Linked DNA regions of Homo sapiens: region 1 is linked to region 2. Evidence: fine-mapped expression QTL. A gene starts in region 2. The other region holds a variant in brackets. All regions are shown on one strand. Distances are from middle to middle. Region 1 overlaps GDNF-AS1 (GDNF antisense RNA 1). Region 2 holds the start of GDNF-AS1 (GDNF antisense RNA 1).

Region 1 (10,402 bases), 25 kb after region 2:
AACCTTCATGGGGCAACACACTTCAAAGAGGTTCCCGGTCATGCTGTGTTTAAAACTTGTTAATTGGACCTAATTGCGAACAGCTGCTCAGTTTAGCCACTGTTTGGGTTGGCATTCACCTACGATAGATCTAGGTCATCTTTTTGTTACATTATATTCATATTGGTATCGTAATATATTTGTTATAATCTTAGAATTTGTCACCATCCAAAGGATTGTGAGATAATAAATAAAAACACGGAGACAACATGTTTGTCAAGCCCTGAGGTCACAGCCAAGTACAAAAGCACTTGGGAGCAGATGCCTATTTGATACACTGTGTGTAGTCATGGCACTTCACTCACACACATGGGAAGATTTCCAACAACAACAACAAATCCGTGGTGTTTACTGGAAGCACTGAATGATCTTTTATTGTCCATTTCTTGTTCATTTAACTATTGCCTTTTAGTGCCATACATCGCAGGAACAAGGGGGACACTAATAAATAGTAGTTTATTAGGTGAAATTGCTATTGGATCTAGTCTGATATAATATTCATGTTTCCTAAGAATCACTTGGGGGAACAACTTATTGGTTAAATGTGAAGGGGTGATTTGGAAAATATTTAACAAGTGATAAGGCACGAGCACTGAGCAATTAGAAGGAATACTGGCTGTAGTAACTGGCATGGCCATACTCAGGCATACTTGTTGTGTAGCAACCAAAGTGTCTATTATCAAGCAAGTTATCACTAAGGGTAACTAGAACATGATCCTGCTGGGATTCAGTGTAGAACATGCCCCTCATAGTTATCTTACTCTAGGAGTAAGAGAGCCAGGGTTTTCTACCAGCTCCTGCCCATCATTGGTTGAAGGCAGTCCTGCCATGCAAGTGGCTTAGTGGGCTCTGGAGGTCTGAGGATGCCTTTATGCAAAGAAATGCTGGTTTGGCAACTGGAAGTCAGACTACTGAGTACTGAAGTGATGAGTGCCTAGGGGTATGGGTGGGCACCAGCAGCACCTGCTATGGTGGTAGGGGGGCATTTGAGGATGTTGGTGGGGCTGATCATGAAATATTTCTCTCTCTGCATTAGCCATGTCAGTAGAAATAGCCTCCTTGAGGTTATTTGAAACAAATTGATACTCACATTACATCTTATAAATTAAATGGGATTGAGGGAGTGGAGCATTTAATGAAAATGGTGATGGTCTTGAGAACAGTGTAAGCAGTTAATACTAATTTGTTCTCCTATGTGATAAGCGTGGCTTCTCCTTTTTCCAGATGAGGACATTGAGGATCAGAGATGTTGAAAAACTTGCCCAAGGATGCACAAGTGGAATGGTAAAGACAGGATTTGAATTCTGACCTCTCTGACTCCGTGTCACAAACTCCTGAAAGTGTGAAAGGTTTAACACAAATTCCTTCCCCGCTCTTTCTCTCTCTCCCTCCCCCCTCCAACTTTTCCCTTTCAACAAATATTTGAAAACTTACTATGTACTGGGCACTATTTTAAGCACCACATAGCAAAGAAACAATTTTGGTCCTTTTTGATCCTGATGATCCCCCATCCCTCCCTTAAATGTTTTTCCTTCCCCAGGTCCTTCCCTAACTTTTGTGGGGCCCTGCAAGTGTAAAAACAGAGGCTCATATACCATACCTAAATATTTAAAAGTGATAAATCAAGCTGGCAAAGTGTTAAATAAAAGATGCTCCATCCTCCTGCCTTGATAAAGACACTTGTGCACAAGGGCTGCTGTGCACTGAGCATCTGTGGGTTTTGGAGCACCATGGAGGAATGTGGTGGCTCAGAGGGTGTGGACATTTAGCCCATGGCCTGTGGCCTGTCCCTCATTTCTTCCCACCCTGGCAGTCCACATAAGGGGGTGGTACACATATGTGTGTGGACATCCTAGCCTACACATCCAAGCTGTATCCCACAAACAGCACCTCATGGCTTAGGGGTGTGTGCACTGGCGGTGTGACCTGCCGTGGAGAGAAAAGGCCTGGGGAAAGCTCTGGAAGTGGACTTAAGACCACTTGGACAGGGGATTCAAGGTCTCTCGTAGCCAAGACATAGTCTGAAAGAGGAGAGGCAGGCTGCAGCCTCCAGGTGGGTACATCTCTGTGCCCCTCAACTCTTCACTCCATAGGAAAGGGCACAACCAGAGGAGTACTGTGGGTGCCCCTTTCCTGGGCCTAAGAGTAACAGCGCTCCTCCCCGTTCTATTTTGTCTTCCAAATCCCACGTTCACATGTGGATATTTTTTGAGATTTGGCCATCTGAGGATTTTTATAAAGGAAAATGTGGAATTCAAACACTCTACTTGTTTAACAGAGAGCAGGTCCATTGAGGTGGGCAGATGTTAGATGTTACTGGAAGTGGAGGAATGGGATTTTGGAGAGACCCGCTGGCCTCTCTGGAGCTACATGGACTTCCCTGCATTCAGCAGCCCTAGTCTACAGAGGGAGAAGCTAGGCTACCCCGGCCTTCTGTCTTGAGACCTTGATGGGTTCATCCCAAACCTCGGGAAGTGGATGCAGTTTAGCAGGATCAGCTCTGCGCCCTGTTCACTTCTCCAGCCATGAGGACTGCAGCTCTGGATAGACTCCTAAAGCACACACGAAAGCAGTGCTTCCTTTACTGGGCCAGATTCTCCCCGGGGGAGCAGACAGAAGCCCTCTAACCTGAGCAGTATGTGCTCATGCCAGTGTGCATTTTCCTGTCTCCCCTGGGGAAGGTTTAAATCCTTTATTTATTAAGAATTTAATTTCTTTATTTATTGGTTTAAATTCTTTATTTATTAAGCCTGCACAATGTGATAGAACACTATAGCAGACAGTCCTCGATGTTTAATTCTTAAGAAAATAGGAAACTATGTATACATTTCCCTCCATTTAAATTCTATTCACTTCTCTCTTTGTGTTAGGGGAGGTACTGAGGAACGCTGTTTTCATTTGCTTTTACTTTTAATATGGTGTTACTCAGAACCAGTAGGGTATATCTATTAATATATCTGTATCTATATCTATATCACCTATATCTCTATCTATCTATCTATCTATCTATCTATCTATCTATCTATCTATCTATCCATCTATCTACCTACCTATTATCTACCCATCTATATTATCTATCTGTCTGTCTGTCTGTCTGTCTATCTATCTATCTATCTATCTATCTATCTATCTATCTATCTATCTATATCTGTCTATAGATAGATACATGAGAGGGGATTTTTTTAAGGTTTTAATTTTGATACAGGATCTCCCTCTGTCACCCAGGCTGGAGTACAGTGGCACAATCATAGCTCACTGCAAGCCTCAAACTCCTGGGCTCAAACGATCCTCCAGCCTCAGCCTCCTGAGTAGTTGGAACTATAGATACACACCACTGTGACTGGCTAATTTGTTTAATTTTTATTTTGTAGAGATGGGTGGAGTCTTGCTATACCTCCCAGGCTGATATCAAACTGCTGGCCTCAAGCGATCTTTCTGCATCAGCCTCTCAAAGTGTTGGGATTACAGGCGTGAGCCACCGCAACCAGCTGGAAGCTGGATTTTTAATGTTTCAAAGTAGAGCAAGTGGGGTCGCCCATTAGGGAACACATCCCAACACCTTTTCTCCTCTGGGTGGCTCCCATGTTCATATCTCACAAGGTGCTCTGTGCTTCAGGATGTCTCTGCAGTTGCTCTTCAGCCTCCTCTCACTACACGGGCCAAGGGCACTGTTTGATGTTTGCAGCGTGTCCTCTTGCCTCCCTTCAACCCTTCAACTTATCTCTTTCCATTTGCATTATCCCTGGCCAGATATATGCTGGGGGTCACTCATACGGACTCACAAAGGCCAATGTTAAAGTTTCAGGAATGTTGTGAACCACTTATTAAATACAGCCATTATAAAAGTGAAATGGCCTAAACTTACATTTAAATATATTTCATTAAAAACAAAGGTAGTAATAATAATAATAAAAATTCATTACTTACAAATTATTTTACTATATGTTACTATTATCTATGCTGTTGGGGTTATTTCAGTCTATTTTAACTGCAGGGTGGAAATATTGTATAACAGTGTGCTCTGCTATGCCCTTTTCCCAACTGTGTGTTTCAAAATGATGTCTCGTTGGAGCTTGAAATCAGCCATGGTTGTAGTATTTATTTCATGTAAATTGGTAAACATTATGAATCAGGAGTCCCTCCCTTATCCAGAGAGCCTGTTGTTAACATTTACCAGCACACCATGATCTGTAGCTCTCAAATCCTTAGATCAGAGTTTCTCAGTTCTAGCACTATTGACATTTTAGGCCAAATAATTCTTTGTTTTTTTGGGGGTGTCACTTGCATTGTAGAATGTTGAGCAGCATTTCTGGATGCCAGTAGCTTCCCCTCCCCAGTTGTGACAACCAAAAATGTCTCCAGATGTTGCCGAATGTTTTCTGGGGGATAAAGTTATCTCCACTTAAGAACCACTGGCCTAGACAACATTATCCTTTAATGTAAGTGACTTGCTATTCTTCCCTTTTAAACTTTAACATGCATCTGACAAATATTCAGTGCCCATTATGCATGTAAATACAATGATGAACAAGATAAGCATTGTCCCTGTCTTCATAGAACTCCAGTCTAAAATCATGGACTAAGCTGGAAATATACTGAGTATCCACTAGGACTAGAACATGCTATCTGCATGCTAATGTGCTCAGTAGGTGATCTTGATCTTTATTAATTCCATTAACACTAATTGCAACATTGTATAATGTTTGCATTTCCCCTTCAGGTGACTGTTGTCTCTTGGGCACAGGTAGCTGCCAACAGGTGAGCCTCTCAGCGGATCCCTGATAGAGGTAGGATGGCAAATAGCTTCTTTAATATGACAGCCTCAGTGTAGTGGCTGGCAAGGAGCTGCGATTGGGAGGAACTGGAAGTGACACCCAAGCTCATTGAGCAAGCATGCTGTGAGTGCCATGAGTAAGTAGTCCCAGCTGATGAGCTTATCAGGGGGTTGCCAGCGGGGGTACTGCCCAGGGTGGAGATGGAATGGGAGACATAGCCATACCTCAGAAGGATATGCAGCTCCTACGAGGACCTAAGTGGAGCTGGGTCAGCATGGCCCCAGTAAGCACACAGCAGGCAGATCAGCCACAGACTTCAGCATCAAGGCCTTCCAGGGTGGGAACTAGATGAACTGGAGGACAGGCCAGGAACCTGCACATATGAATCATGTGGGCCAAGGACCTTCCTCCCCTTTCCTACCACCATGAAGCAGACCCTTCCCCCAGGAGTCATCTTGGAGAAAAATGGGAAAGTGGAGCAGTGGTAGGGGGCAGGGGGTGCTGCAATACCAAAATATCCAGAAGGCATTTAAAATTATTGGACTAGATGACATTTAATTCTCCTTCTTTACTCAGTAAAGTGAAGAGCTCAGGAGAAAGATTGGATCAATTATAGAAAATAATGAAGGTACATTTTCTTTGCATAACTAAATGTAGGGTAAGTACATTTTGAATTTGCTAAAATTGTCTTTGCTCTGCCTCTGCACACGTGTGCACACGTGCACACACACAAATGGCACTTCTGGGAGTTTTTCCTTGCTACCACCTCCTCTCAATAATCAATGCTCACGAAAGCATTTGTGAGAAATGTGGAGTTTACTGTGGAGATTCAAAGGGAAGATGATGGAGGTTTCACTGTAACCCCCACAACAGATTCATATTCCACTTTGATACTGTGTTCATCATTTCCAATATATACCTTTTTCCTAGTTGAGTATTTGAAATCTTGGAAACCAGACTCTGTCTTGCTGTGTTGGTGTGTCATAGTATAATTGGCAGCATGTTTCCTTTGGTAGCAATACATAAGACAATGGTGTGTCTTATGTTGATGTCTTCTTATATTTGATAAAATCTTTTAAGTCTACTGCTTTGCAGTCCTTCCTCAACTGCAAGCAGAGGCTTCCCCACTGAGGCCATTGAGTAAAGTGGTTCAAAGTACAGTCTGGAGTCAGACCATCACTTACTATCTCCACCATTCACAAGCCAGGTAACCTTGGGCAAGTTACTGAAGGGTTCAGGGGCTTTGTTTCCCTACCTGTGCAATGGGGATAATATTATTAACTACTTCATCGGATTGTAGTAAGAATTAAATGAGTTGATATATATAGAGAAATTGGAACAGTGTCAGGTGGTGGTGACTTCTAGAAAAGTAGTTGTTCTTATACGTATTACCTCTTTAGTCCCCTCCCACATAGGCCCTGCCTCCTGTTACCTATTGCTTTTTCTTTCCTCCCTTATTTTATAAATAATACTTCAGTGACCGCTGTTTGCTATTTGAACACAACCTTGAGATCTCTCCTCTCCTTCCCAAATGGCTTACCTAAGTATTTACTCCAAACAAATATGTTGTCTTTTAGAGATACTCTGATAAGTAAAGATTGCTGTATGTAGTAACATATTTTTATCATTATTTCTGATGCATCTATGGTAGATGCAAGAGATAGTAAGATATGAGCTTGACTGGAGC[T/C]GAGCTAGCTTGTTGGGGAGCATTAGGAAATAGGATGGAAAAAAGATAGGTTGGAGACAGATGGCACTTGAAGAATCTCCCCTTTGAAATCTTTGGTAAAGTCTACAATATGATACCTCTCCATACATCTCTAAGGAGGCTTTGTATTTTGATGACAGCCTTGAATGCTAGGGACACCCAGCCACACGGGCTAACTCATACAGGGCAGAGAGGACTTTCACCCTCTTTAATTCACCGTGTATGAGTGGCAATGTTTCTTCCCAAATATATGGCTGGCCCTAGGAGACAAGTCAGGGCATGTGAGCTGTGGATGTGAACTGAGAGAACAGTTGGGGCTTAGGTGAAAAGTGGAGATTCAGGAACTCTTCAGATATAGTGGCCTTAGGGAAAGATAGATGTATTAGGCCATTCTTACATTGCTATAAAGAAATACCTGAGACTGGGTAATTTATAAAGAAAAGAGGTTATATTGGCTCATAGTTCTGCAGGCTATACAGGAGGCATAGTGCTGGCATCTGCTCAGCTTCTGGTGAAACCTCAGGTAGCTTTTAATCGTGGCAGAACGGGAAGCGGGAACAGGCATGCCACAAGTTGAAAGCAGGAGCAAGCGAGAGAGATTGGGGATGGTGGTGGGGGGTGTTACAGACTTTTAAATGAGCAGGTCTCATAACAACTCACTCACTATTGTGAAGATGGCACCAAGCCATGAGGGATCTGCCCCCATGATCCAAACACCTCCCACCAGGCCCCTCCTCCAGCATTAGGGATTACGATTCAACATGAGATCTGGGTGGGGACAAATATCCAAACTATATTACTAGGCAGTAACAAAGAGACACCCGGCCCTTCTGGGTTCAAGGTGTGCCACAGGCCTGCATGTCCTCCTAAGCTTTTCTTAGGTGGTGCCAGAGTTTGAATGGCTGCAGTCCTGGCATATTCCTCAGTGAGGCTGGAAAAAATAATCCACTCCTGCAAATGGAAAATTTCTTCTGTGTAGGGTGAGCACTTCCAGCTCCAGAAATGAAACATGCTAAAGGCAGCGTGTGACTTGGCATGGGGTGACCAGTAACCCAACTGATCGGTCCTCTAACCTGTTAGTTCATTTTGCTGGTGATCTTGTCCATAAGGGCAAACAACTTTCTAGCTGGTCACCTTTGGAACAAAGTAAGAGTTTTTGAAAGAGGATTTAAAAAAATTCTTTTTTGGTTTGTTTTGGGTTTAATGAGTCAATGCTTTATTTTACTATGAGTGTTTATAACCAGACCTAAATGTATGTAGGATCTTGAACCTCCCCCACAACTATTTCCTATTTGTTCCCAGAAAAATTCCAATGCCAGATTTTGCCATAGCAACCAGAGGCAAATATCAAGACAGCAATAAAGAGCAAGCTGGAAAAGGGTTTCCCTACAATGTGGCTTGAGTTTCTGTAGGGCATTCCATCCTCCGTGTGGAGCTCTGGAAGGCAAGAGGGGGCCCTGCGGTTCCTCGTGGGGGGGTCTGGTAGAGTCCAGATTTGCCAGCATCCAGGACCCACTAGGAAATGTGTCTGTCAGGCAGCTGGGCTGGAGCGGAAGGATCAGCTTGCCTGCTCCTCGGGCTTGGCACCTGTTGTGTGTTGATCTTTATTTTTGTACGTCAATTTTTCAAAATTAAAGGTATTGAATTATTATTTTTCCATTATGCTTTTCCTCTGAGCAGTTTAGTAAACAAGCCTGTTCTGTATTTCCTAATTGTCCCCTCAAGTGCTCTTTGGAAGAAGGCAGTGCATATTTAAAAGTAAGCAAATGAAACCAAAGAACAGGAGATTCTTCCAATATCTGCCCACGATGTCCCTCATTCTGTGTCCTTCCTTTTTGTCATGGTTGTTAGGTAATGTTAGGAAGTCCCACTTCTTTCCCATAGGTAAAGTCATCTCACTACAGTATAGCCTTCTTGCTGAAAGAACTTTGGGCTTCCGAGTTACTTCAGGTGCTGGTTTGGATTAGCGGTGTGTTGATAAATGTTTAACAACTCGCTCGCAGACATAAAATTGCCTTGATTTGTAGAGCTGATTTGCTGATTTCTGTGGTGTAAATCCTCCCACCATGGCAGATTTCATCTTACCAGAGTGACCTCATGAACATGGAACTGGAAAGAGATGCACACATTTAACTCTCATGCACTGGTAAGAGCTGGCTGCCCCACACTGCTGGTTCTACCGATCTAGGCCTGGGTTTCTCAACCTCAGCACTATTGACATTTTGGGCAGAATGGCTGTTGGTTATTGGTGGCTGTCCTGTGCATTGTAGGATGTTTAGCAGCACCTGTGGTTTCTACTCACTAGATGCCAGGAGCAACCCTTCCCCACTAAGTTGCAACAACCAAAAATGTCTCCAGATTTTGCCAGATGTCTCCTGAGGGGCAAAATCTCCCTTAGTTCTGGGCTATTCTGCACTGATAGTGCTTAGAAGGTCCATTCAGCAGGCAGTAGGCCTGCACTGTTAGCTTTTCCATGAACCACTCTGAATATGCACCCAAAGAAGTTCTCTCTTGGCATTTTGGATGTGGTGCATTAGTCTGTTCTCATGCTGCTAATAAAGGCATACCCGAGACTGGGTAATTTATAAAGGAAAGAGGTTTAATGGACTCACAGTTCCAGATGGCTGGGGAGGTCTCATGATCATGGCAGAATATGAAGGAAGAGCAAAGAGATGTTTTACATGGCAGCAGGCAACAGAGCCTGTGCAGGAGAACTCCCCTTTATAAAATCATCAGATCTCATGAGACTTATTCACTATCATGAGAGCAACATGGGAAAGTCCTGCCCCCATGATTCAGTCACCTCCCACCGGGTCCCTCCCACGACATGTAGGAATTATGGGAGCTACAATTCAAGATGAGATTTGGGTGGGGATACAGCCAAACCATAACATGTGGTATTGCAAAACACTGAAAGTGTGCTTCCTTGGGTAGTCTTGAGAAGAGTCATGCTGTAAGGACTTAAGGCACCAAAAAATTAAGACACAGCAGGGCCAGTAGGAGAGCATCAGGGTAATTCCACTATAGGATATATCCTATATCCATTATAGGATAGTTTTGACAGACTGCAGAGGTCCCTTAGGCAAACCTTTCCTTTGTATGGGTGAGAAATTAGACTCAGGGACAAGGTGTGACTTGTCCAAGGGCAAGGTGTGGATGTGCTTGGACAGTCACAGGGGTGTTGTGGTGAATGCTGTGAGACGCCTGTGTGACATACTGGGAATTAGAACTGACTCCAACTTGTAGCTAAATGTGTTTTGCGGGCTTTTCAATGTTGGGTTTGGATGGATATATTCTGACATCTCCCTGTCCCCTACCTCTCTGTCCCTTTGGAAATATCTGCTTATGAAAACCATATTATAATGAGGGATTTCTGTTTCAGATAGAATTATTCCCTTCAGCTTCAGGAGTGAGTTGATTATTCACATGTTCTTTTTAGGGGGTTTAAGCTGCTAGTCCTTAAAGAATAGATGCTGAAGGTTGTCATTGATTCCTCTTTCCTTCCTCCCACGTCTGCTCTGGGCCTTCTCATTGATGTAGTATCTTAGGTTACTTCCAAAATAATTTGAGAAATGGATTTATAGAAGAAGCTAGCTTTCCAGTAGAAAAGTTTAGATGACAAGATTAATGTGATAAGAACTAAGAAAGCCCTTCCTAGTTTTCATTGAAAATGTGTTTTTAATGCCCAGAGGTGCCCAGTCAAAAAGGAAATATTACAGAAGGATTATTTTCATCAGCAGAGTTCTTGGGCATTGCAAGTTCCAGTGTAATTAGGGAAATCACATGCGAGTACATCAATACACTTCAGATGCCAATACATTGGGCTTAATGAGGACAACAAGCCTGCTTTTATTAGGGGATTGAATAAAAGTGAAAGGAGTTC
Region 2 (10,107 bases):
GGCTGCTGTCCCCTCCAGTTAACCCCCCACCCCCACCACCACGATTCCTGTCCAGTCCCCTCTACTGGTGCGCAACATCCCCCATTCCTGGGGGGCAATCGGGTAGTTCCCACCCTTCGTCCTCCACCCCAACCAGAGACCTCCCCTTCTTGTCCCGGTAGCTCCTATAGGCCCCTGAACGAGCCCTCGGCCCAAGCAAGGACGGTGTTTCTCTTTGGAAATAAAATCAAGCGCATTCCCCTGCCTCGGGTCCCAACCGGGCTTCTGGCTAGTCGAGGGCAGGCTCGGGGGCACCACTCACCCAGCCTGCCGCCCACACCTCATTCTTCCCACCTAAATAGGTATTCTGTTGCGAGAGCAAGAAGTTAGCAGGGACTTGGAGACTTTTGGCCTGTATGGGATATCTGGTTTAAGTTACTTAACTTCCCAAAGCACTGATTCGATTTAAAATACTCCTCCCACCTCTTAAAGTTATGAACATTAAATCACGCATGACAAGCTCTAGCGGAACATGTAGTAAGAGCTCAGTAAATGCTTTACCATTGCTGTTAGGCAAAGACTGCATTTGTCTTGAAAGTTTTAATCCTCCGTGGTATACCCGAAAACCCTCTCTTGACTGGATTTTTGCACCTTTGAGAGATTCTGGCCCTAATCCCTTCCCCTCCCAGAGGAGTCACTGGCTCCCCGCGCCCCCGTCACGCCTGGACGACTGTACCCAGTCTCGGACGCTTTGGAGGTGCTCTGGCACTGGAAGGCCTAGACCGTGGTACGGCGCAGAGTAGGGGGTTCAGCTCTTTTCAGCCCGAGGTGGGCTCTGTTTGGCTTCTCAATCCTCACACCCCTACAAAGGAGGGCCACGCAGCTGGGGGTGGGTTAGAAAAAGGGGCTGTAAATTTGGGGGCGAGTTCCAACCAATGAGGAGACGGGGAAGAACCGAGGCATCTTGGGGTGCAGTGTTATCCAGTGCCTTCCTAATCCCAGGGTTCGTCTCCAGGGCACTAGTGACCTAGAGAGAATCTCCTCAAGCGGAATCTGCGAGATTCGTGCAGTCGATTATCCTATCCCCTCGACCGGCTCCATAAAACGGTTCTTAGGAAAAACTCGATTTTTTTTTTCCCATGCGGGAGGGAAATGCAAAACCCAGGTTAATGCAAAAACCTCAGTGCCTTTCCTAGCCATTAGTTCACAGGCACCCCCGCCTCCATTCCAGGGTTCCAGTCCTCATCTCTACCCGGAACCCCACTCCCTGTCCCGGTGCAGGCAACCCGGGGAAGCCTTTAATTCGGCCGCCACCTCCCACCTCTGCAGAGACTAATGCATTTTACATCTCCTGAGCGTCTGTTTGTTCGCTATGCAGCTGTTGGGCTCGAGAGGGTGTAGGGACTAGAAACTCCTAGTGACCTGCAGCACCGAGCGCCTCTTGCCTCGCGGGCTGGTTTGCAAACTCGGGAAAAAGCTAGGTTCTGGGTCGCGATGTGCAGACACAGGAAAACTGCACCAGGCCATGCAAAATGAGCCCAGAAAGGTACTTTGGCAGCTAGGACCTGGGGAACGCGAGCTTCCCCCCTCAAGCCCCCCGCCGGTGCCAGCTCCCGGGTGCGTGCGAAATGGCTGGCGGTCCGACCGGAGGAGCATGGAGGCGCGGGGTTAATGCGCCATTCCAAATCGCGGTGCCCGCCAGCAGGAAGCCACAGAGGCACTAGATTTCCCTTCCGTCTTAAGAGGGTTTTCCCTTTTTTCCTGCTTGGCCGACGGAGGGCTTTTTAAATTGGACGTGGAGATCCTCAATTAGAAGTGTGGCGAAGCTGGCAAAAGACTACACAGTGGAAAACTCCCCGCGTCGCCAGAGGAGGCTCCCGGCTGCGGTTCCCGCCCTCGGCCGAGCGCCGCCAGCGCCCGGATCGAGCTCCCCTCTTCCCCCGGGACAGGGAGGGCGCATTCTTCCCTCTGAGCGCCGCCGGGACCGGCTCCAGTCCGAGGGGCTCTTTCGTTCTCGGTATTTGCTGGGCGGGGGAAAAGGGGGGAGGTTGGGGGACTCGGCACACACAGCGTCTACTAGGACGTTTTTCTTAGAGTCCGTGTGGGCTCCACCCCTCGGCTTCTCAGTTTGTCTCTCTATCGCTTTCCCAAAACACATCTACATCTGCCCGACGCGCTTCTCCTCAACCATGGGCCTTTGCCCGCGGTGCAAACTGCTTTACGCGCCGCCACGTGCGAGAACCAAGCTCTGCTCCTCAAGTGACGGGGGCTCTGCTCTGCCAGGTGACCGCGCACCATTTCTCGTGCCTGGCAAGCTGGTCCCCTTCTGGGTCCGGGACCACCACGTCCCGGCAGGGCAAAAGCAGCAGGCCGTGGGCGCCGGCACCTGTGGGTCCCCAGGCCTGGGGAGGCAAGGACGCCCAGGAAAGCCACAGAAGTGCTCGCAGAAGCAGCCGCTCGCCGCGAGGCACTTCTGAGTTCCCGGCAGCAGGGGGCACCAGAAACCGTCTGAGCCGTGTCGCGCCCACGCGGCCCGGAGGCTGTGTTATCATTTTAGTTATAAAACCGGAGAACCACCACTCCCTCTACGAGCCTCCCGAAATCCCATTAGCCCGGGAACCTGTGGAGGTCCTTACTGGCATCTCTGCTTTTCAGGCTCCCACCCCTCCATTCTCGCTGGTTTTCCTCTCCCCACTTCACCTGAGCGGGTTTCTTGGCAACCTGCTTTCAGACCATCCCTCACCCCTTCCACGCGTCACCGTGACAGATTCGCAGGAGGCAGCGCTCCCGCCGTCAGTGCCCCCGCACCTTCTTGTGCCTGGCAGGCTGGGAGGTTTGTTTGGGCTTTGCCTTCAAGATCCAGGTCTCAGAGAGAGAAAAAGGAGGCGGTGGGGCGGGGAGACGGGTTTGCTATAAACTCGGTTTTTTTTTTTTTTTTTTTGGCGGGGGGAGGTAGAGACAGAAATTGCTGGAAGATCTATTGCTTTTCTTAACTATGCTTCGTGTCCTTGACTGACAGAGGACTTATTCTCCCCTCAACCCCCCATAACTGCGGGGCCCAAGATGAGGGAAGGAAAAAGAATTTGGGACACTTCTCGCAGGCAAACTGGGAAAGCGGTCTGTTTAAAGGGCCAGGTTCCAGGCCCGAGAGCACCCGAATTGCTAGCGGGAAAGGGCTAGGGACACGGCGGACTTCCCAGAGATCGGACACTTGTTACTTGTTGAAAAGGCGCCACCTTCCCTGACAAAGCGAAGGCGCAGCGAAACAGTACGAGTTTGGTCGAGGCCGGCTTTGACGGCTTTGCGGGACTGGGTGCGTGAATGAGGTTGGAAGAAACATCTCTTCCTTGAAATACCTAAGCATATATTCCAAACACTGAGCAAGAGTCGAGCGCGTTCTAACATCTCCGCAGCAGGGGCCGGAAGAGTTGCCTTTGTCCCCGCCTATGAGCAGAAGGGTCGCGAGCTCTGGGATGGGTAAGCCCCCCGGGGGCGCGCACATGGGTCCTGGCGGCGGATTCTACCAAAGCCGAAACTAGCTGGGCCCCAGGAAGCTGGCGGGAACCCGCGAAAGTCCGTTTCCAGCCCGAAGAGGGTTCGTTTTTCTTCGTTGGGGCAGGAAACAAACCACCAGTGCGGAATTAGCCTCGAGGTGGTGTAAAGTAGTGGCAGTGGTGGTGGGGTGTTTTTGGAAGGCGGCACAGAGTACAGGAGAAAAAGGGGTCATTAAAATAATAACCTCAATGGCCTAGTGGAGTCTCAAGAATACGTTCGAGACAGAGATTTGAATCCAGGACTGGCAAGAAAGCCCCTCTCCTAACCTCGACGGGGATGGTTAGTTGGGGTGGAGGGCGTTAGGAACGTGCAGGCAACCGGGTGAGGAATGTAGCTTTGCCAGACCTCGCCCGGAGGAGGTGAGCCCTCCATTTTTAGGTTCTCAGCACCTTTGCAGCAGCCCCTCCCCCGGCCTGCGCTTTTCCTTGGCACAGATCAAAACAAGCTCAATAGTAAGTTGCACTCTTGGCAATGATAGTATCTCTGCACGTCCAGAGAGGACACATTTCGACGGCGGTGGGTTCGAAGATGACCCAAGCCCTGAATCGTTCTGTGACTTGACGGAAGAGCACCTGGCCGAGTCGGGGAAGGAAACTGCCCCTCTTGGGCATTCCGGGTCCAGGCGCATCTGGGGCTCCACAGATCTTTGCCCACGTGGAAAAGGCAACATGCCCCTCCGAAAGGCCGGCCTCTCTCCGGTTCTACTTTTCTCTCTCCTCGCATAGCTTAGGTTCCCTCTAGTCTTTCCACTTTCTACTCTCACCGTTTGCTCTGGGGTCCAGACGCACCCCTCTGACTAGGGCGCCCTTCAGCCGGCCGCACCCACCCGCGACGCAGGCACCACCCGCTCCCTGCTCCCCGGCCCGCTCCCTCACTTACCTCGGATCGGGTCTCCGCAGACCCTAGGTTGGACATTAACTCCAGGTGCCCCAAGTCCCAGCCAGGAGACCCATCCGGGCTGATGGCTGGAGCGCGGAGCCCCGCCCAACAGGTCAGGGGCAAGAGTTCGCAATCCTGGGGTCGCGCGGGGCAGCAAGGGCGCGCTGGAGGCGGCGGCCAAGACTCCCGCCGCCGCCGCCGCCAACAGGGCGAGGGCTGCCGGCAACTCTCCCGCCGGGCCCCCGCACCCCCAGAAGCCGAGGTCCGAGCAGCCGCCGCTGCTTTGGGTGGGGGGCTGACAGGGCTGCGCGCGTCGCGCTCTTGGCTGGGGCTGCGCGGGCCCGGGGCGCTGCGGGCGGCTCAGCGGCAGCTGCCGCGCTCTGCGCCTCCTCTGGGCGCACTGCCTGGGAGCACGAGACTGGTTTGTCTGATGCTGCTGCCGGAGCTGAGGTCTTGCCTGGAGATCCGAACGAGACACCACGTCAACCGGCGCGGGGAGTCCCGTGAAGACATGAGGGCGCCAGGAGCGCAGGCTGGTCTTCTAGAGCCCGGGCTGGGGGTCCGGGGTCCGGGGTGGGGGAGGGGAGGCGCGGGGCCCCGGGAGGGAGGGGTCGGGAGGCGTCGGCTGGGCCTGGCGGTGGGGGAGGAGAGGAGAGCAGCGAGGAGGCCCTGGAGTTCCCGAGGCGGGGGGCCGGGGTGCGAGTGGGCGACGCGAGGCGCCCCTCCCTGGGCTGCAGGGAGAGCGCTGAGAGCGCGGAGACGCCGCGGGGCTAGCGCCTTCTCCTCTCCGGGTGGATCAAAAATCGAGAGGAATGTGCGGCGCTCTGCGCGGGCCAGCCGAAAGGGGCAATCCGAACTTGACCGCGGCGCCCGCGCCGGGCTTTGCCCCCGCGCGCCGCACTGGGAGGGTGGCGCTCTGCCGGTGCAGGGCAGCGCCGGGCTTTCCTCGCGCCTGTCGAAGGCCGGCCTTCCCGCTCGGGTGTCTCGCCCTCTCGCTTCTCCGCAGGGCAGGAGGCAGTGGCGAGAAAAGGAGCTGCCGGCCGGAGTTCTAGCACCGAGAAGGAGAGGTGCGGAGCGGCCGGGTGAGGGAAGCCGAGTATTTGCCAGGGGACGCTGCGAGTGGGGATGAATTTATAGGGCTCTCACTCCGTGACGTGCCCTCCAGTGGCTTTTCTGATTCGCTTTCTGACCTAAACACACATTAGTTTAGTCCCCATGCTAAGGCCAACACGGTCTCCAAATATCTGCTGGCTGAAGTCAGAGGCTTTGCATATCATGTATTACATGGCAGGCAATGAAGAAGGCTTCTGAGGCTGGCCGGCTCCTCAGTCCTAGGCTCCATTTTCATGCTGTTGTAATCTAATACCAGACATGGGGCAGGCACATACATTCAAAATCCCAATTCCAGAGGCGTAAGATCACTTTATCAGGAACGGGTTAGGGGAGGTTGAGCTAAACCTGCTTTTATCCAGATTTTCGAAAATGCAGATGGGAAACTTCAGCAAGCGCCCACTTGGATGCTGAGTTTCCAGCGATCAGGGGCCCGGCCCCCATTCCAGAGCTCTGTGGATGGGAGAGGTGAGACCTTCTGGGCATTCCTTTTGTTGGTTAGTTCACCACCAGAAGCTGCCTGAGCCTTCTTTTGTAGAGGACAGGAGGAGGGCAAGTCCTTACACACCCTGTGCATGGCTATAACCATAAATACATTTCATTCACATGGGGCATGGAATTGGCTGTACCTCTAAAATAATGTACTAAATAGGGCATGTCTTTGCTAAGCAGAAACCTGTTTTCCGGAAGCCATTGGACCTGAATTCAGTGGGACCTCTTTTATTTTATTAGCTGGGGCCAGGGAAAGTGTAAACAGGCTCAGTTTACGTCCATGTACCTCTTATTTTATGACTCATCCGGTTGTTGGGGAGTATGTGTTCTTCAAGTAGCTGATACAGACAATAGGCAGGGGAAATGCGTGTGGCAGTGTGGGGGGAAGATCATGTATTATTAAACTTCTTAAAAGTCAAAGATCAGCTACTTTGCAGGTTTGTCAGTGAAGCGAGTGTGGGAGGAAAATTGTTCTTACTAACGTTGCTGTGATTTAAGATTAAGCGAAGTGAAAATCGAGTCATCAAAACATACCTTAGCTGAAATTAGGATGCTCTCTGGAGTTCTGCAGAAAATGACATTTCCCTCTTTGATAGATTTATGGTAGAAATGTAGTTAGATTCAGAAATTAGAGGGCAGAATAAGCTTAATATATTTATTGCCGTTTAGCATTGTTTTTGGAATTTGAAGACGACCCTCATCAATGTTCTTACTCTGAATGATTTCTTTATTTTTAGAGGGCTTTTTGCTGGGGATGATCAGCCCGTCCAAGCACCTGCAAATATCTAGCACTTGCTGTGTGCCAGGCAAAGTGCTAGGCCCTGGGCATTGTGCTGATTGGGCTTTTTTTTTGGGCGGGGGGCGGGGGTTGCAAGGAACAGATACCACTGAGGTTTACCCTCAGTAATGGGAATTTACTGTGGAAGGAAGGCTGACCGGAATCTCCACCATTCCGCCACGTGTCTCCGAAAAGCCTTCCGGAAAGGCCACCCAGCCAGGCCTCATGAAAACTGGATTGAAGTTCAGGAACTGGAAGGTCATTCAGGATACAGCTCTGTGACTGGGTTATCTCGCTGCCCCCTCAGCAGCAGGCATCTGCCGATCCCCACTAACGGCTTAGCCGCCAAGGTGATTCAGCTCCTCTCTCGCTGTTTTCCCCTGGGTGTCCTTTGGCTTCTGCTCCTGCTACCAACTGCTCAGCTCTCAGTTGATCTCACATTTAAACTCCTTTAGTGAAAGGATCTAGTTTGTCCTGCTAGGGATTCACCAGGGGTGAGAGTTGGACTGAGCCTTTGTATCAGTCTCCTTACAGGTTGCAAAACACCCTGTATATCCGCAGACCTGGGGGCAGGTGCCTATCCTGGGCCAATCATTCATGTCCAGGTTGTTGGCATCACAGAGTACACAGCCTGGCCACCTTTGCTTGAGATACTTCCTAGAGTTCCTCCCCACATTCCCTCCACAGAGGATGGTCCCTCAGAAGGAGGTGGGTTAATGGTAGGCACTTTGGGTTTTGACAGTCCTCTCCCAGCCCTTCAGAAACTACCACTACAGAGAGGGAGATATGCTCATGAGTATTGATGGTATAAAGTGATAAATACTCCAACAGAAGTATATATGAGACTCATGTCCTGGAGTCTGATTTTCACATGGCCAGTGAAACACTGGGGAGATTTCAAAAAATACCCAGACCTGTAGGCTGGAAGTGGTGGTGGCTCACACCCGTAATCCCAGCACTTTGGGAGGCTGAGGTGGGTGGATCACTTGGGGTCAGGAGTTTGAGATCAGCCTGGCCAACATGGCGAAACCCAGTCTCTACTAAAAATAGAAAAATTAGCTGGTTGTGGTGGTGGGCACCTGTAATCCCAGCTACTTGGGAGGTTGAGGCATGAGAATTGCTTGAACTTGAGAGGTGGAGATTACAGTGAGTAGTGATTGCACCACTGTACTCCAGCCTGGGTGACACAGTGGGACTCTGTCTCAAAAAAAAAAAAAAAAAAAAGTCCCAGACCTAGGCCTTGTTCAGGGCAATTAAATCAGAATCTCTTGAAGGGTGGAGCTCAGGAGTTGATTTTTCAGATGCTCCCAGGTTAGTGAATTGGCTTTATCTTTTCCCAGTGGTTGCAATCATCTTATGATTCTTTTTGAAAGCAAAATGAAGAAGCCCTATTTTGATAGGTTCTAAGACTAAGACTCTTCCAAAACATTAAATTCCTTTCAAAATACAAAGTATCTTAAAACAGTAATATAAAGGAAAATGTTAAATTTAATTTAGAATTAAAGCAAATATTTCTAATTTTGAAAGAACATTTATTTACATGGCTACAGCATACAGATGAATTCAGCAAAAGTTCCTTCTGAAGTGACTGCCTTGAATAGAGTTAAGATGGGAAGCAAACATTTGGTGTCTTGGGAACAAGGGGATGGCCTGATGTCACAGTCTCACGCCCCCATAAGCTGAAAGTAGGGAGCCCCACAGCTCCGAGGCTCCAGCTTCTCTGTTCTCAAGGAAACGGAATAGTTTGATTTGAAGCTGTTCCTCAGCGAAGTCCAGAAGGGAAGAATTTGCAGCACCGACTCTGCTCTCAATAGGCAGAACATCCTCTGATAAAGCAACAACAGCAACATACTGCTAAGGATTCTCACATTGTCCCCAGATCTCAGCTTTTTATCTAGGAAGCCCTGCCTGAGAATCAGAGAGAACAAACATTGTTCAAGCCTCCCATCTCCTCTTTGAGAAAAAAGGTTCGAAGCCCTGCTAATTTCCTATTTCATCGCTATCGTCCTCTTCACTGGGATTTCTTGTGAGTCTCTAACTGAAAGTTGTCTAAATGATCGGTGCAATTTGTGCCCAAGGATCTTACAGTCCTTGGGAAGAGAAAACACAACCATAAAATGATGAAAAATAATACAGGGTATTATAAGGTTATGGAACTCAAACTAGCCCTTGATTGGAGTAAGTAAGCAGAGAGGAGGTGGGGGTGAGGGGACATTCCAGGCTGGCTGAAAGGGTCGCTGGAGGAGACTGGATGCTAGGTACTGCCACATTCTTGCTCAGCCTCTGTGGCCCTGTAGGGCTGCAGCCTGTAGACGTGATGGGGTGGGTGGGTCAGCTTTTGGCCATTCACAGAGTCCTTGGCGAGCTCCCAGTGGGGCTTTGCAGCTGCTTTGACTATGAGGGCCAGGACCCCGGTCCCTGGACTGCCTCATAACTTGGGTCGTGAGGACTGAAACAGAATCCATCACTTAAGCAGAGCAATTTCCTTTTCAAAGTCACAGCTTTATTGGACTGCGATTTGTTCCATGCTTGCTTGCTTTTTAACAGCCATTTTCACGAATGATCCTATTACTCATGAAGGAAAGATAGATTTGCCTTCAGACCACTTAAAAAAAAGTGAAAAGAAAAAAAGAAAGGGGAAAAATTCACTGTAATGGCCTTTTTGCAAGTAGTGGGAAGTGACAAATTCTTTGGAGTAAATCGTTTCTCATAAGAAATCAATCCTGACATTGGCAAGGGAGATTTATCAGTGATTTCCAGCAGTTTCTTTCATTAGGATCAAATTGTCTCATTGTCCACTAATTTTGTTTTTGGCTCTTGAAATTACTTTGTGAAATTTCTCTTTTCCAGAGATAAAACTTCAATCAGGTGAGAGTGTTGCGGCAGACTTTCTTACTATGCAAATGGTCTGATGGCTTAGGTCTGGGGTTAGCAAACATTTTCTGTAAAGATAGTAAATATTTTAGGCTTTGCAGGCATACTGTCTCTGTTGCAACTTCTCAACTCTAGCCTTGTGTTGCAAGAGCACCCATAGATGATATGTAAATGATAATATAATTTTTTCCATGTTATGAAATACTTTTTTGATTTTTAAATGTAAAAACCATTCTTAGCTCATGGACCATACAAAAGCAGGCAGTGGACAAGATTTGACGCAAGGGCTATGATTTGCCGACTCCAGTATAGGTTAAAGTTATCACTTTGATGAGACTTATCAGTTCCAGAATTGGAAGGGACCTGAGACTTCTAGTCCAAGCTCCTCATCTTACAAGGGGAGAAAATGGAGGCAGAGAGTGGTTAAGTGACTTACCCAA

The links.
Region 1: its variant is fine-mapped to the expression of GDNF-AS1 in cerebellar hemisphere (GTEx, PIP 0.98).

What each region holds. Positions count from the first base shown.
Region 1 is chr5:37,859,998-37,870,399 of GRCh38, forward strand. The region is part of intron 1 of GDNF-AS1 (GDNF antisense RNA 1); the gene reads left to right. Among named protein-coding and RNA genes, the nearest start is that of GDNF, 25 kb to the left of the region's middle. The variant T/C (reference allele first, on the strand shown) is at 6,502.
Region 2 is chr5:37,835,094-37,845,200 of GRCh38, forward strand. It overlaps GDNF-AS1 (GDNF antisense RNA 1), which reads left to right and starts at 4,791. Exons shown (of 4, transcript NR_145476.1): 1 at 4,791-4,945. It overlaps GDNF (glial cell derived neurotrophic factor), which reads right to left and starts at 4,948. Exons shown (of 3, transcript NM_000514.4): 1 at 4,414-4,948. RefSeq lists enhancers at 1,055-1,993, 2,345-2,414, 3,872-4,809.